Homo sapiens: one gene and its partner. The protein of the gene in region 2 interacts with the protein of the main gene of each other region in a pairwise test. Each region holds a gene or a part of one and is shown on either strand. Other genes may lie near its edges.

What was found.
Region 1: the proteins of CRX (region 2) and LONRF1 interact in binary tests that used the Homo sapiens proteins (3 or more experiments, as listed by UniProt).

Annotation. Positions count from the first base shown.
Region 1 is NC_000008.11:12,749,027-12,752,526, forward strand, and holds part of LONRF1 (LON peptidase N-terminal domain and RING finger protein 1), read right to left. Parts: intron 1-3,500.
Region 2 is NC_000019.10:47,831,937-47,835,436, reverse strand, and holds part of CRX (cone-rod homeobox protein), read right to left. Parts: intron 1,029-3,500; 5' UTR 994-1,028; coding exon 894-993; intron 1-893. UniProt on the Homo sapiens protein: Transcription factor that binds and transactivates the sequence 5'-TAATC[CA]-3' which is found upstream of several photoreceptor-specific genes, including the opsin genes.

The DNA of each region.
Region 1 (3,500 bases), on a different chromosome or scaffold from region 2:
TGCTTACCTCTAAAACACCTACATTTTATAACTGCTGTGAGGATTGAATAAGATAATGCATGTTAAACAGTTAACACCAAACCTAAGACATACATGCTCCATCTATAATAATTGTTGATAACATTCCAAAATATCTCAAAACAAAGTGATGAAGATATTAGATTAACCCTTGATACAAGATACAGAAGAGTATTTTCTACCTTGTCTTTTACCCACATAAATGGTAGCCTAGATAAGAAACATCTTTAGGGATCAGGAGAGCAGACTGGACAACAGACAGCACAAAGGTGGGTCAAGGGGATGGGAAGCAAAAGACCTTACCAAAGGGAAAGAAAAAACCAAACAGAAGCTTCCATCTTGCATTTTAGAGTTCCCTGAAGTCATTCAACTTCAATAATAAAACAATTCCAATTTTGAGAAATACCTTTGGAAAGAGGCAGAACACTATACAAATTCATTTAAAATTTTACTCGAGATTTTCCAAGGCTCTTAGAAATATTCCAACAAACAGAAAAATGATTCTGAATAAACAAAAAGTTAATATATAAATAACTAGAAATCTAAGATAATTCAGTTTTGGTAAATTCTGCATTTGATGAATGAAAAACAGTTAAAAAACAAATTATTCATTTGAAATGGGACACTTGAATCAGTTTTTTTATCATTTATATCAAAAGCCATTACAGTTGATCTTTTTAGTAACCCTGAGGCACTAAGAAAAAAAATCCTTAAAGTACCTTATGAATCAAAGAAAATAATTAGAGATATAGTCTCGGTTAAGTAGAAGCCAATTAAGCAGTAAACCCCATTTTCTAGGGATTTTCAATTTGCTGCAATTACAAAAGAAACAAAAAATACAAACTCTACAAGGACAGGGACTTTATTTTACTCCTTTTTTATATTTCTAGCACCTAAAACAATGCCTGGTATATAGTAGCTACTCAATAAAAATTTGCTGAATAGTAAGAATATTTTAGATTTATGTTTTGCGTGCTAATTTTTAAATCAACTTTGTGTTTTGAATCAATATGCACATATTTGGGTTCTGCTTTCAGTTTTAACTTGGTCACTTACTTCCCTTAAGAAAGTCACCCAAAATTCTTGCAACTTTTCTTACATCTGTGAATTAGGGATATTAATACTTGCCCTCCTATCTCACATGAGTTTGTGTATGGATCAATTACGATAATAGAAATGAAAATAATTGTGAACTATAATCACCATACAGACATCAGTGTTTACTGTTTCAAGTCCTCTGCACAATAAGTAAGGACATAAATAAGTTAGCAAGAGCCTCCCTTTACCCAAGGGGGATACGTTCCAAGACTCCCACGGATGCCTGCAACTTCAGATAGTACCAAGCCCTATATATACTATCATACCTGTGATAAACTTTAATTTATAAATTAGGTGTAGTAAGACATTAGCAACAATAACTGATGATAAAATAGAACAATATAACAATATGCTGTGATAAAACGTACATGAAAGTGGTCTCTCAAAATATTTTATCATACTGTACCATGTGGGTAACTGAAACCACAAATAAGGGGAAACTACTGTATTGTTTAAATTCAAATTTCTTCATTTTAACCTAGTTGAGTTACTAAAGATAATAAAAACCCTCTACATTTTCTTTAAATGTATTCAGTATTTACCTATAATTTGACTGATCTTCTGATAGCTAAAGCTTTTAAGTATCTATAGTTTATTGATGAATGCTAAACTGCTAGTTAACATGTGTAAACTAAAATCGGGATGTAATTGTTACTCTCTACCAAGTGATAGAACAGAACAGGATGTAAAATTGCAAGGTTTAGATTCCACTTTCAGCAAAATCCCCTTCTAGCCGTAACACACTTCTACATTTTAAAAATATTGAATTAATATTTACTGGGCATTTACTCTGTGTCAGGCACTATTTAAAGCACTTAGCATGTTTTGACTCATTTGATTCTCACAACACCCTATGAGGTAGAGACTATTCTCATTTTTCAGATAAGGAAACCAAAACACAGATAGGTTAGGCAACGTGCACAAGGTCGGAGAGAGGCGAGGGCTGCGTCAGGATTGGAACCCAGGTGTCAGCTTCCAGCATGCAGAGCTTTAATCACTAAGCCACACTGCATGTCTATCCATAGATGCCTCAGTTTCCCTCTGAGGATAATATTACAGTACTCCATAGAATTCTCTGTGAAGATCAAATGATATTAATATAAATAATGTAAAAATACTGGGTAACAGTCAAGGATTATATTTTTATTTTTATGTTTTTTTTTTTTTTTTTTTTTTTTGAGACTGAGTCTTGCTCTGTTGCCCAGGCTGGATGGAGTGCAGTGGTGTGGTCTCAGCTAACTGCAACCTCCACTTTCCGGGTTCAAGCAATTCTGCCTCAGCCTCTGGAGTAGCGGGAACTACAGGCATGCACCACCACGCCTGGGTAATTTTTTGTATCTCTAGTAGATACGGGGTTTCACCATGTTGGCCAGGCTGGTCTCGAACTCCTGGCCTCATGCGATCCGCCCGCCTCGGTCTCCCAAAGTGCTGGGATTACAGGTTTGAGCCACCATGCCTGGTCAAGCATTACAGAATTAATATTAAAGACAAAATTTTCCTTACCCAAATATTTTAAAACAAAATATCACCCCCCCACCTTACAACCTTTTTTTTTTTTTTTAACCTGTACAAACTGTAAATTATACTGTTCTGTTGTCTTCCTCTGGGGGAGAGGTGAACACACGAAGGAGATAAGTCAGTGTAAAAAAACATTAAACACAAAAGGCAGGCAGCATGGCTTAGGGGGATCATTTCAGTAGGCTCAAGCACAGAGATTCAGTGCAGGAAAAACTTTACATAATATCCCTGAATACTAAAAAGACAGAAAGTTATGAAACATCTGAGAGTTAATACCAAAAGATCAATGGTTTAAATGTTATCTAAATATATTTCAATTCAACAGAAACTTATGTAATCTAAATGGGAAACTTCTGATTTTGGCAAAGGTTTTCAAGCTTTCTTTTGCTGCTGGCAGAGATAAGTTTGGATGTGTGTGGGCTAACTGCAGACTAGATTTTTTCTAGTTAATAGTATTTACTTGTTTCATTATAAGAATTATACGAAGAAATTATAGTGAAGATCTTTTTTCATTATCAACAATAATGACAAGATCATTAATAACTACAACCGTACAGTTATATAAATACATGTCAAATGCCTAGCTTGCCAATTCCAAAGAAGTTAAAGCCTAAGGATTGTACAAACAGCTTATGACTGTACTAGTTAACATTTTGATTTACACCCATAAATTGTGAGACACTTATAAATCGGCCCTTTACCAACTCTAATTTGTTAGCTCTGAGATTTTTTTCCTGTTAGTTCACATTAAGAATTCAAAAGATTAAAAAACTTATCCTCATTAGTGCCATTCAGACATTTTCAAGCATGGAATTAATGATTCTTGAAAGAACTAAAAATGAGGAAAAAATAAGCTAATGCAGTGA
Region 2 (3,500 bases):
CTCCAGCCTGGGCAGGAGCGAAACTCCGTCTAAACTGTGTCTCGAAAGAAAAAAAAAGAAAAAGAAATAAGGCTTTGCAGGCCAGGTGCAGTGGCTCATGCCTGTAATCCCAGCACTTTGGGAGGCTGAGTCAGGCGGATTATTTGGACCCAAGAGTTTGAGACCAGCCTGGGCAACATAGGGAGACCCAATCTCTACAAAAAAAAAAATAATAATAATTTTTTCTATGTTTTGTATAATCCAGATCCTGCAAAATCTACAAAAACTTAAAAAAGTTAGCCAGGCATGGTGGCGTGCACCTGTAATCCTAGCTATTTGGGAGGCCAAGGCAAAAGGATCGCTTGAGCCCAGGAGTTCGAGGCTGTAGTGAGCTGTGATTGCACCATTGCACTTCAGAGTGGGCAACAGAGTGAGACCCTGTCTCAAAAATAAAATTAAAAAAAAAAAGTGCCCCCCGGGCCTAGGCACAATGGCTCACACCTGCAGTCCCAGCTACTCAGGAGGCTGAGGTGGGAGGATTGCTTGAGCCCAGGAGTTCGAGGCTGCAGTGAGCCGTGACCACCACCACTGCACTCCAGCCTGGGTGACAGAGTGTGAGACCTTGTCTCTGAAAAATAAATAAATAATAAAGTTTTGGTAACAGATGAAAATTCCTCTTGATTCCCCTTCCAGATTACATCCCCTCTTCCTCACCCCAAAAGGAACCTCTGTCCTGAATTTCTAGGACTGCTAATGTTTTTCTAAGTGACATACATTTCAGATGAACCCAGAGGGCTGGTGTATGGCCCTGAAGTCGCCCCTGTGATTGCCTTCTTCCTGGGGGCAAAGGGACCCCAGAGGTCCTCCAAGAGATGAGGCCAGCCTGGGGTGCCAAGAGAAACGACTGTACTCACTTGGGTAGGGCACAGCCTGGTGCATCAGATCCACACTGGGGCCACTTAGGGCCAAGGCGTTGACAGAATAGTGGGGCCCCGGGTTCATATACGCCATCATGATCTTCGGGGACACTGAGGCCCAAGTCAGGGGGCCTGCAAGAGAAGAGGAGGGATGCTCACTCACTTACCAGTTACTCACCATGGGGTGACGTGCAGGCTGCGATTCAAATCCTGCCTCCTTCTCCTCTTAGGTATGTGACCTTGGCCATTTATCTCACCTCTCTGTACCTCTGTGTCCTCACATGTAAAATGGCCTCTGCTTAAGGTTCTCAGAGCTTTCTTGAGACTCTGCAAAGCAGACAGCTGAAGCCATCATGTGCCTCATAAGTGCAAGCTCTTATTCCTACTCTACCCTCTAAAAATCTCGTCCTGGCTAGGCACAATGGCTCACATCTGTCATCCCAGCACTTTGGGAGGCCAAGGCGGGAGGATCACTTGAGCCCAGGAGTTTGAGACCAGCCTGAGCAACATAGCAAGACCCTGTCTCTTAAAAAAAAAAAAAAAGTGTTCTTTAAAAAGTTAACTGGGTGTGGTGATGCATGCCTGTAATCCCAGCTACCCAGGAGGCTGAGGTGGGAGGATCACTTGAGCCCAGGAGTTTGGGGCTGCAGTGAGCTGTGTTCAGGCCATTGCACTCCAGCCTGGGTGACACAGCAAGACTCTAAGAAAAAAACAAAACAAATCTGATCCTGTTACACACCCTCATCCAAGATCCCTTCTTTCTTGACCATGGGCAAACACGCTCAGCCTCACTTATAACCCAGGACTGCAGGTTGACCAACCGTCCCTCTTTGCCCAGGTTGGAGGAGAGGTGGGTGTTTCTTGGAACACAGGACTTTCAGTGCTAGAGCCAGAATGGTCCCAGGCAAACTGGATTGGTTGGTCACCCTAAGGGAGAGTGGCATTAAACCAACAGTAAGGGCCAGGCAAGGTGGCTCACGCCTGTAATCCCAGCACTTTGGGAGGCTGAGATGGATGGATCACCTAAGGTCAGAAGTTCAAGACCAGCCTGGCCAACATGGTGAAACCCCATCTCTATTAAAAATACAAAAATTAGCCAGGTGTGGTGGCGGGTGCCTGTAATCCCAGCTACTTGGGAGGCTGAGGCAGGAGAATCACTGGAACCCGGGAGGCAGAGGTTGCAGTGAGCCAAGATCGCACCACCGCACTCCAGCCTGGGCGACAGAGCGAGACTCTGTCTCAAAAACAAAACAAAACAAAACAAAAAAACAAAAACAAAAACAAACAAAAAAACGACAGTAAGGGCTAAGCAAGGCGGCTCACACCTGTAATCCCAGCACTTTGGGAGGTCAAGGCAGGAGAATCACTTGAGCCCAGAAGTTCAAAACCAGCCTAGGCAACATAGTGAGACCCCCATCTCTGAAAAAAAGAAAAAGAAATAGTGAGACCCCCCATCTCTGAAAAAAGAAAAAGAAATAGACCCCTATCTCAAAAAAAAAAAAAAAAAAAAAGCGAGTGTGGATCTTCCATGATCACTTTTGACCTATCAGGTTGGCAAAGATGAAGGAGGTTGATAACTTCCAGCACTGGTGTCAGTGTGGGGAAAGGCACACTCCCATGGCAGATAGGTAGCAGTACAGGTTGTAACAAACTGTTATTGAAGTAAAATGCCATCTTTCTTTTGTCCTAGTAATTCACCTTCAATGTATACCTCAGTCGCCTTGTTGGAAAATGGGAATGAAAATCGCATTTATGGGCCAGGCGCAGTGGCTCACACCTGTAATCCCAGCACTTTGGGAGACCAAGGCAGGCAGATCACTTGAGGTCAGGAGTTTGAGATTAGCCTGGTCAACATGGTGAAACCCCGTCTCTACTAAAAATACAAAAATTAGCTGGGCACAGGGGTGCACGCCTGTAGTCCCAGCTACTTGGGAGGCTGAGGCAGGAGAATCGCTTGAACCTGGGAGGCGGAGGCTGTAGTGAGCCAAAATGGTGCCACCACACCCCAGCCTGGGCTACGGACTCCGTCTCAAAAAAAAGAAAAGAAAAGAAAAAGAAAATAGCATTTATGTTCAGGTGGCAACATAGCGAAACTCTCCTGTCTCTACAAAAAATTAATTTTTTTTTTAAAGTAAGCCTGGGCGCAGTGGCTCATGCCTGTAATTTCAGCACTTTGGGAGGCCAAGGCAGGCAGATCACCAGAGGTCAGAAGTTCGAGACCAGCCTGGCCAACATGGTGAAACCCCGTCTCTGCAGAAAATACAAAAATTAGCCGGGCATGGTGGCGCGTGCCTGTAATCCCAGCTACTCGGGAGGCTGAGGCAGGAGAATCGCTTGAACCCGGGAGGCAGAAGTTGCAATGAGCCAAGATCAAGCCACTGCACTCCAGCTTGGGCGACAGAGCGAGACTCCGTCTCAAAAAAAAAAAAAAAAAACATAAGGCTGCTCTCTGAACTGATTTTAAAAGATCTCCATTATATAGTTTTAAAAAATTGTTCTAGGGGCCAGGTGTGGTGGCTCACATCTGCAATCCCAGCACTTTGGGAGGCCAAAGCAGGCGGATCACCTGAGGTCGGGAGTTCGAGACCAGCCTGGCCAACATGG